Regions from separate parts of the Homo sapiens genome. Here region 2 is linked to region 1. The links come from fine-mapping of genetic effects on gene expression. A gene starts in region 1. The other region holds a variant in brackets. All regions are shown on one strand. Distances are between the middles of the regions.

Region 1 (5,378 bases):
TTTGTTAAACGAACCATGGCCCACTTGAGGAAACCCAGGTGTACAGTCATCATCACCACATGTGCTGAGGTGACTTGAGAAAGGGCAGTGATACACTGGGGCCAAGTTTCCGTGAGACTCACTTTGGTCCATAGGTTCTCTGCCAACTCACTGATTCCTGTGTCCTGAGGAAAATGGGCCGAGGTAAAAAAAAGCCTGAATCACTGCTTGGCAGACACCAAGACAAGTGTCTGAGATTAAAAAGAAAAAAAAAAAAAAGGCCCACCTGAGCTCAGGTGATCCTCCTGCCTCAGCCTCCCAAGTAGCTGAGACTATAGGCGAGCGCTGCCGCGCCTGGCTAATTTCTGTATTTTTTGTATAGATGGGGTTTTGCCATGTTGCCCAGGCTGGTCTCGAACTCCTGAGCTAAAGTGATCGAGCCTTGGCCTCCCAAAGTGCTGGATTACAGGCGTAGCTACCATACCCAGCCTAATTCTGCATTTTTTGAAGAAGCTAACTTAGAAGAATTTAAGCGTCCAAACTGTACCTTCATAAAACTATTGTCAGCACTTCTGCTACTTATGTCTGAATTTGTGTATAAGTTTAGAGCAATGCAATTTACCTTAATGAGAATGATTTAACCACCGAAGTTATTAAACTGGAGGTGATCTCACATTGAATGTGGTAGCTGAGCAGGAAGGTTCTGCCAGCTTGCAACTGGCAGAGTACACGAGGTAGTGTTAAGTCATGACCTGGAGAAGAATCCATGCCCCAAAGCTCCTTGTCTGGCTTGTCTACAGGAAACAAGCTAAGACAAGTGGCAGAATACAGAAAAAACACAAAACCCCTGGCTTAAGCAACTACATAACAACTGATTATCTCCTCTAGTGAGAAAATGAAATTAATAATTAACCTGTTTATGCCTAAATTTTTTCATTACCCAACTGGAAAATTCTTGATAATTTTACTGTTTTTTCACTTGTACCCCAAAAACAGTCTTACTGCTTCTCTCTCTCTCTCCCTATTTGCTGGGTGTTTCATGTTTCTACCAAAGCTGATAGACAGCTCTAGAAAAAAAAATCACTCAATTCCATCCTTGCCTATCACACACAGGTAGATGGGCCAGGTACTCCTGTAAGCGGTGCACAATGAGGTCATCAGTCCTTAGCGCGCTCTTGGATCCCGGCATTCCACAGAGCACATGGCTCACTTTCCGCAAAGCTCAGCATCATCCACACTCGGGCCTGATGGTCCCTACTAAGCAGCCACCGGGTTAGCACCTCTCCTTTCCAGCTAACTCCTTTTACACTGCTTGGCTCCTCCCTCTTCTGTGCGCAGCACGCATCTCTAATCTAACACCTGCAGGCTGAATCACTATCTTGAGCTATTTTCCAGACTTAAAACATCTTTGTAGATAACCGCAAATTATACTGCACCTAAATTAGACATGCATGGTGCTAACATGAAACAATGAGTTGAGAAAGTAGAGAACCAGCACCACAGGACTCCCTGAAGGCCACCTGGCTACATTCTATTTCAAACAGGACTTTTAAATGGGGCACTCTGTCAAACAAGGTGGTGAGTAGCTGTCAATTAAAGGACACTTCCCTGCAGAGTTCAGGGTAGTAAAATCATAGTTAGGAATTATCGAGGTCTGCTTTAAACTTGTGGATAAAAGTGCGCACACACACATCAAAAAGAAAATGATAGCCAAGACGTGAAGATTATAAAGCATTTATTTGAAAAAGATACATTTTATTAAAATCCATTTTCCACTTTAATGGTAGTTCAATCCACATCGTTTTTCCAGTCTTAAAATGTTTCTTTATCGACTACTATAACCCTTTACTGTAATTAAAGCCACATTTTGTAAAACTACATAAACTGGGGTTTGACTATGAACTATGTCCTAAATCCCACTGCCAAATGTAGCTAGCGTCACTAAAATCAATCAATGGTTTTAGGTCTGAGTGATAGTGGACGAGTGAGCTGGCCATAAGGTGAAGGCCACCCTTGCTTTTACTGGATATCCAAAAACGAAGTCCAGTGAGCAGCAAACGTCTCCACGTTAACCACACAGCCCACTAGCTCCAGTTCCAGCCCTGGACAGCTTTCTGGCCCCTCGCCGGGCCCACTTCCTCTGCAGCCCCAGGTCCCGACGCGCAGGGAAGGCCGTCTGGGGCCGAGGTCGGGGCGAGCCGCTGCCCGGGCCAGAGGAAAGGCGCGGCGCTTCCTGCCCGCCCGGCCGCGAAAGCCCACCTGACCATTGTCCGGGGTCTCGCCCTGCCCCGCCCCGCCCCGCCAGCTGGCCCACTGCCCCCCCCCCCGGGCCCCAAGGAACACCCGCCCACCCCACCCTGGCCCCTCAACCCAGCCGCCCGCCGACCACAGCAGTAGGACGCCCCCGCGCACGCTCACCTTCTTGCCCTTCTTGCCCTCCTCTTCCATATCGCCGCGTGCGGCTCCCGCGGCCCGCCCGGCCCGCCCCGGGAGCCCCGCCGCCAGCAGCCGCTACATGCTCGACCCGGGCCCGCCGCCCCCGCGCTCCCGGCGCCGCCCGCCAGCCGGGCCCGAAGTCTCCGCCCCGGCCGCGCCCCACACCCGCACTTCCGGGCCCGAGCCCCCTCCGCCCCGCCCAGGCCCCACCTTCCCCAGCGCAGGCCCCGCCCACGGTTGTCGCTCATCCTCACTTTCAGGCCCAAGGGAATCCGACCCGCAGCGATCAGACCCCGCCCCTTCAGGGAGAACACGGCCCGTTGGCCCCGCTCACGGCGAGAGCACCGCCCACAGGCTGAAGATCCTGCCCCTTCAGGACGGCCGAGAACGCGCCTGCCTTGCACCACCCCCACCCCGCCCCGCGTCCTTCAGGAGAGCCGGAAACGCTCCTACCCCTACTTCGCTTCTGCACGGCCGCGAGAACGCACCTGTCCAGCCCCCTGTTCGCTCCGCCCACTCAGCGCGCGCGGGAGCGCGCGCGGGAGCAGCTCCAACTTTTTCAATTTGCCGCCATCTTTACGGCGGCCGACTTCCCAGCCTGCCTCGCGTCCAGGGAGGCGGAGCTCAGGTCTCTGAAAAGGGGACGGGGGGCGGGGGACGGGGGACGGGGGCCGGCGGGAGGGGACGCGGCCGGCAGATGGCGAAGGAGGGGCGCGAGGAGGCGGCCACTGTTGAGGGGCGGGGCGTCCCGCCGAGAGTCTGGGTGCGGTGCGGTTTTCTTTTTTCTTGTGTCCCACTTTATTCCCTGAGCCACAGGGAATCCGTTTTCTAGTACTTCTCTGTTATAAAGTCTGCCTGCCTTAGACAAACACATTTGGAAAATAGAAGTGCAACCACAAGGATGTGCAGACCCTATCAGAATAAAATCGTAGAACCTTACCAGTCATCCGGTATAATTTCCACATTTTCCAGATGAGGTCCGGGGAATGAGGTGATTCGCCCAAAAGCACACTACAAATTGGAGTCACCAGCAGGTCTGCTATTTTGCCACTAAACCAATCTGCCGGTAAGAACTTTGTAGCACAGCTAGAATGTAAACTGTGTTTTTTTGGTGGTTTTTTTTTTTTTTTGAGACGGAGCCTTGCTCTGTCGCCCAGGCTGGAGTGCCAGTGGCGTGGATCTCGGCTCACTGCAAGCTCTGCCTCGCGGGTTCACGCCGTTCTCCTGCCTCAGCCTCCCGAGTAGCTGGGACTACAGGCGCCAGCCACCACACCTGGCTAATTTTTGTATTTTTAGTAGAGACGGGGTTTCACCATGGTCTGGATCTCCTGACCTGGTGATCCGCCCACCTCGGCCTCCCAAAGTGCTGGGATTACAGGCGTGAGCCACCGCGCCCGGCCTAATAATTCTTTATATTAAACTTTTCTTTACTGTGTTTCTGTCTCCTGACTGGGCCTATGTTATACTGATATTCAAAAGAAATACTTGGTCTCTAGACCTCTCCAAAGGCATAAGTATTCCATTCTCTGCAAGATAAAGCAGAGATAGTGGAAACACCCTTTCAATCTGCCTTCTGCAATAATCCAGCTTGCCACATTTACACACGCAAATGATGTAGCGCATCTGGTTGTCATTATTTTCCCACCATTCACAGAACAAAGGCCTGATATTTAAAGTCTTCCACCGTCTTCCACAAATGCATATTTATCACTCCATAATACAGTAAACAACACTACTAAAACTTCTCTTAGCCTAACTCTGGATGTGCTGACTTCCTCAGGCTGTTCTTATCCATCAGAATACCTTTGCCCTGTCTTTGCATACACAGGTTCATGCTTCAAGCAAAAGTCCACTGGCTAATGATCAGATGGTGATAACTGGGAATAAAGACAATAAAATGAGAAAAGCAAAAAGGCTGTTAGCTTGCTATAACAAGGGAGTCAGCCACCATCATTTGTATTTGGATGAGACTCAATGTCAGGCAGAGGAGTGGGTAAGCTTTATAGTGAAAAAAGGGAAGCCTCCAGGGATGTCCTCATTTGAGGCTGTTGGCCTGGGGAAGCAAGGGGCAGGGCATCCCAAGTGATTGGTTAGGGGCACATATTTGTCTTTCTCTGGTTGCTCCTAAGCTGGAAGCAGGACCGAAAACTAGGAAAGCTGCCAGTTTTTTTTTAATTGACAAATAATTTTTTGTTTCTTTTGTATTTTTAGAGATAAAGTCTCACTCTGTCCTTCAGGTTAGAGTGCAGTGATGCAGTCATGGCTCACTGAAGCTTCAACCTCCTGGGCTCAAGCAATCCTCCCATCTCAGCCTCCCAAGTAGCTGGGACTACAAGGACGCATCACCAAGCCTGGCTAATTTTAGTATATTTTTGTTGAGACAAGGTCACACTATGTTGCCCAGGCTGGTCTCAAACTCCTAGGCTCAAGCAATCCTCCCTCCTCAGCCTCCCAAAGTGCTGGGATTATAGGCATGAGCCATCGCACCCAGCTAACACATAATAATTGTACATATTTATGAGGTACATGTGATTTGTGTGTGTGTGTGAGGCAGAGTCTCACTCTGTCACCCAGGCTGGAGTGCAGTGGCATGATTTCAGCTCACTGCAACCTCTGCCTCCCAGGTTCAAGCAATTCTCCTGCCTCAGCTTCCCAAGTAGCTGGGATTACAGGCATGCACCACCACACCAGGCTAATTTTTTTTTTTTTTTTTTTTTTGAGACAGAGTCTTACTCTGTATTGCCCAGGCTGTAGTGCAGTGGTGCAATCTCAGCTCACTGCAACATCCACCCCCCAGTTTCAAGCGATTCTCCTGCCTCCGGAGTAGCTGGAATTACAGGTGCCCACTACCACGCCCGGCTAATTTCTGTATTTTTAGTAGAGACAGGGTTTCACCATGTTGCCCAGGCTGGTCTCGAACTCCTGGCCTCATGTGATCTGTCCACCTTAGCCTCCCAAAGTGC
Region 2 (5,378 bases), 28 kb before region 1:
AATAATTAAATGGTTTAGCATATTTTTAATGTACAGAATCAGGATTCCAGTAAACCATCATGGGTTCTTTAACTCACTAGAATGTACTATAGATGGACACATAGAATTTAAAAGGTGGGATTAGCCCAGGCAACCATTCTTCATTCAACATGTATTTGATTGAGTATGCCTGTTCATCACCACTAAATGATCTTGTCACCTTTGAACCTCAGAGACCAAAGGACCAATTCAGTCCCCAGAAGGAAACCAGGCTAAGTGCTATTTCTCTTCCATGAGTGGAGTCCCAGCACCAAAGTGAGGTGTGGAGTCTATCCCAGCCTAAGTCTCTCCTGAAGAAACTGAGGCTGTGAGGGTCGAAGGGACCTGCCAGAGTCCACAGTACGGAGCCAGGAGGAGGGAACACAGGGCTCTGAGTCACCATGCAGCGCTGTGCAAAGACATCCATATGGAATATATGCCACCTCAGATAACTATACAGAACTTTCTAAACTCACTCTGGAAGATGCCTAGATCCTTACAAATTCTTACAAAGTTAACGTCTTAAGCTTAAAACAACTCTTAAAGTTGGAAACCTAAAATGTACTTCTGAGTTAAAAAACTAAAACTAAATCTGGCCTACTAGGGCTTACCTAGTGAGAATGCCCTCCTCACACAAAGCCAAGGCTCAGGCTCTGGGCAAGGCTGGCCCTCAGATGCCAACTGCGGGTCTTGAGTTTTGTTAAATCTGAAGCTCAACATTATCAGCTCACTTGGGTGAACAGGATCTGGAGTAACTGGATCTGCTCAACAAATTCTCAGAAACTAACTTATAAGTCAGGGCACCTGTTTATTAATTTACAAGGAGAAATGAATCCACTAAAAGAACCAGCAAAAGCAGACTCATGAAACAGTGGCCTCTACTTGGGGACCAAAGTAAATAGTATGGCTATACCTTCTAGCTGCATTCTCCATGCAAAACATTGAGCTCAGTATTACTCTGGAGAAAGTGCTAAAAAGTCTATGAAGGAAGAAAGAGAAGAACACTTAGTCACACTGAGCAGTACCCAGCATGTCTCTGCTACAGGGTTCAGGCATTTTCATTTGCGCAAATTATTTAACCCTTATGAATAAACTACAAGGTGGGTTTTATCTAATAAAACAAAACCGCCTCTGAACAAAGATGTTTAAAGTATTATAAAAAGGCCTAGGTATCCTTAAGGCCAACATTCAGTACATCTCATGAGTATTCACTATGCGCCAGACACTGGGGCTGTAGAAGCCACCGTCCCTGCCCCCAGGGAACCCCCAGTCTAAAGAGGGAGACAGACAAACCGCAACTGCACAGCCACATGAGGGCCCAGCAGGAATGAGGGAAAATGACTGGAAGAGGCACCAAACTCAGTGCCTGGGTCTGAGAAGACAGTGGAACCTGGAGCGATGATTCTGTCCAGCTGGACAGTGATAGGCTATAGTCCCAGAGAGACACCTGCCATCCTCATAAATCACACTGCCTAAGGTGCACATCCGAGGCACTACGACAAATCCCCTCCTACAAGCTCCATGACAAAGAACTCCTCTGTGGACACCCACATTGCACCCCTGCCTATGTGAATTTCCACAAACTTCCAGCACTCCCTGCAGTGTCAGTTGACAGATTAGCTTTTTTTTTTTTTAAGTGCTTTGGTGCCTACCAATGGAAAAAGGACCTTTCCTCGGTGCTGGAGAGGTCTAAATGATAAGTATGACACAGCCGGTGTGCACCCGCATCTCAGGACACGGCTAATTTCTTTCTTTTCTTTTTTTTTGAGCCGGAGTTTCACTCTGTCACCCAGGCTGGAGTGCAGTGGCGCAATCTCGGCTGACTGCAACCTCCACCTCCCGGGTTCAAGTGATTCTCCTGCCTCAGCCTCCCAAATAGCTGGGATTACAGGTGCGTGCCGCCACACCCGGCAATTTTTTTGTATTTTTAGTATAGACGGGGTTTCACCATGTTAGTCAGAATGGTCTTGATCTCCTGACCTCCTGATCCACCCACCTCCACCTCCCAAAGTGCTAGGATTACAGGCATAAGCCACTGTACCCGGCTGACAGAGCGAATTTCAAGGGGAACCAGAGCTCTGCCCACTACCGCCTGTTTGCTTCAGTGAGAAAGGCATAGGCACCTTAG[T/C]GCCCACAGGAGGCCACACTGGCGGTGGCCAGGATCCATGCTGGTGGAGTCTCAAGCAGAACCCCACTAGTGTTGCAGGCTTCGTGGATGAAATTCCAGCTTTGGGTGCTCTCTTGCTTGGCCATCTCCCTACATCATTTTTCAACCAGGCTCTTGGGTCCCGACCACAAATCCATAGGAAAATTACTTCTCCGTGGAAGATGTAAAACCTGTGGCTTCTTCTTCCTTGAGTCAAGATGGATGAATCCAACAACCTATACTCCCCACCTGGGTGGAACGGCACTTCTCCATACACGCCCCTTGCCACAGGGTCTCAGACCAGGAAGCCAGCAAATGAACCCTCCACCCACCCCATCCTCCCAAAGCAGGGGTCATGGAGACTGGGCTACCCTAGCTCACAATGGGCAAGCCCTGGGAAGCAGCCATGAAAGCCACCCACAAGGGACTCACACCATCATCATTCTAAATGGCGCTTTCCACACTGGACTTGCACCTACCTCATTCTCCATGGAATACCCTGTGTGAAATTCTGTTTGAGGAATTTCTTTGGAGAGATTCTGGTTCCTCCTCTGCCGACAGCTACTATGCATTCTCTACTCACTTCTGAATTTGTTGAAAAATATGGCCAGATGTTAGCCCTCCCTCTGAAAAAAACATGACTGAACAGGAAGACCAGAAACCACAGCTTCCTTCTGCAAAGCCACTGAAGCTGTTTACAATTTTTTAAAAGTTTAAAAAGCAGGCAGCACCCAGAAACTGTTGGCAAAATCCAAACAGTCTGCATGCACAAAAAGACACAAAGTAAACCAGCTCATTTTCCCTACTTCCCACAGCACGCGAACCCCACAAGCAGCCTCCCTGCATTTCCAGCAGAAATTCTGCAGTCAACAGAAGGACATTAATTTCAAAGTCCACCATTCTGCACATTCAAATGCCAAAGCTAAACAAGCAGACAGAAAGCACTGTGAGGGGCTACCATTTCCTGGAGACAACAGGCCGTGCTGTTGGTGAAGACCCATGGTACCTGCCTCATACGAAGGGTGGAAACACGCGACAAGGCTGTTCCAGTTACCCCATTTGCAGTGCTTGCTCAAAGGCAGCAAGATCTTTACAGAGATAACTCCATTCCCAGGTGGGGCTTGGGCAGGGCACACCGGGCTCTACGGGTCCTCAGCCTACAAGTGCCTCTACCTGCCTCCAGGACTCATGAGTTTGAGTCAGCAGCACTTTGAAATTAAACAGCGTGCCTCTGGCCAAGCTCACTTCTTCAAGGCAAATTTCCTAATCTAGAAAAGCAGAAGTTGGATCTGTTGCTGGTGAAGGCTCTTAGAACTCTGATAATTCCAGAATGGCTTGCAAATAGGGAGGGCTACTTAATTAAATATTCTGGTTGGCTGGGTGCGGTGGCTCATGTCTGTAATCCCAGCACTTTAGAAGGCTGAGGCAGGTGGATCACCTGAGGTAAGAAGTTCGACACCAGCCTGGCCAACACGGTGAAACCCCGTCTCTACTGAAAGTAGAAAAATTAGCCGGGCGTGGTGATGGGCACCTGTTATCCCAGCTACTTGGGAGGCTGAGGCAGGAGAATCGCTTGAACCTGGGAGGCAGAGGTTCCAGTAAGAAAAGATAGCACCATTGCACTCCAGCCTGGGTAACAGAGTGAGACTCCATCTCAAAAAAAAAAAAAAAAAAAAAAATCTGGTTAGAGTGACTATATTCACAGATCAATAAATAAACATAACAATTACAATATAATTTTTTAAATATTAGGTTGAACCAAATCAAAGTGCTGATTTTCAACAGTGTTTTGGCTATAAAAATGGTACTTTCATACAATTCTATTTCATTAACCTGTAACAAATAAAGTTTAATATTTCCTGATTCCAAAAAGACTGATTGCTTCAGAATAAAATTTAGTGCTTCAATTATTATTCCATATACCACAGATGTAGAAACTGTCATAAAGTTGGAAAAGCAGCATCAGAACTAGATTTGAGTCAATATCCGGTATTAACTGGACTGTCACTTTCTGTCTTTAAAAACCAGAGTAGAGTCACAATTTCAGATTGCTCCTTCCTAAAAGTTGCCTATACAGGGCAGAACCAGCTGACCCTGACCTTCAGGTAGGCTCAAAGGGAAAAAGGCAAACCAGGAGGGAGATACAGAAAGAGGTGCCACTCAGCTGAGCAGCCTCACCTCTATTTTGGCTACTGCAGGGAGGGGAAGGATTCCAGGGAAATAGACATGACTAAAAAGAAAACCCACATGCTCTGAACACTAGTCAACCCCAACCTTCCCTCACAAACACAGTGATCCCCACGGTCAGCATGAGAGAGAAAAGCCAAAGAACAAATGGGAAGAGACAGGCACAGGAACCTACATTCTAGCTAGTATACTTAGAGACACTTGAGAAGAACTGCATCCATAAAATAAGACTAGATAGCTATGAAAAAGAGAAAACGGCCGGGTGCAGTGGCTCCCGCCTGTAATCCCAGCGTTTTGGAAGGCTGAGGTGGGCAGATCACCTGAGGTTAGAAGTTTGAGACCAGACTGACCAATATGGAGAAACCCCGTCTCTACCAAAAACACAAAATTAGCTGGGCGTGATGGCGCATGCCTGTTAATCCCAGCTATTCGGGAGGCTGAAGCACGAGAATCACTTGAACCCAGGAGGCGGAGGTTGCGGTGAGGTGAGATCACGCCATTGCACTCCAGCCTGGGCAACAAGAGTGAAACTCCATCTCAAAAAAAAAAAAAAAAGAAAAAGAGAGAACAGAGAACAAGAAATATATCTTAGAAATTACAAATATGACTGCCAAAATAAAAAATTCGTAGAATAATAACAAGGACATAGCGGAGAGCCCAAAGAATGATGTGAAGGAGAACTGCGGGGTTGGCCAATGCCTGCCTGCTGCTGATGGCCACAGCTGCAAATGTTTTACAGATGAACATTTGCCACCAATTCGATAAAGGGAATCACCAACTTTGAACCCTGATTAAGCAAAATGTTAGCCCCCAAAAAGAATTCCATTCTCAGTAGTAGAACCATATTACAAAAAATTGTACTCAATTATTATACCTTGAATTTCATCAATAAAAAAATTTACGAAAATTTGCTTTCTCTCTTATATAAGTACCTACTTAATGGCCTCAATTTTGCCCCCTGGCCCACACAGCCTGAAATATTTACTGTCTGGTCCTTTACATGAAGTTTGCCAACCCTGTCTTAGAA

What was found.
Region 2: its variant is fine-mapped to the expression of CCM2 in whole blood (TOPMed, PIP above 0.99).

Annotation. Positions count from the first base shown.
Region 1 is chr7:44,997,383-45,002,760 of GRCh38, reverse strand. It overlaps CCM2 (CCM2 scaffold protein), which reads right to left and starts at 2,560. Exons shown (of 10, transcript NM_031443.4): 1 at 2,398-2,560. The coding sequence starts at 2,427. LOC102723334 (a long non-coding RNA gene) reads left to right here and starts at 2,753. Exons shown (of 4, transcript XR_428139.4): 1 at 2,753-3,043; 2 at 3,388-3,481. RefSeq lists silencers at 2,084-2,613, 3,244-3,293.
Region 2 is chr7:45,025,063-45,030,440 of GRCh38, reverse strand. All of the region lies in intron 1 of CCM2 (CCM2 scaffold protein), which reads right to left. Among named protein-coding and RNA genes, the nearest start is that of CCM2, 28 kb to the right of the region's middle. RefSeq lists enhancers at 2,163-2,232, 2,835-2,884 and a silencer at 3,275-3,344. The variant T/C (reference allele first, on the strand shown) is at 2,147.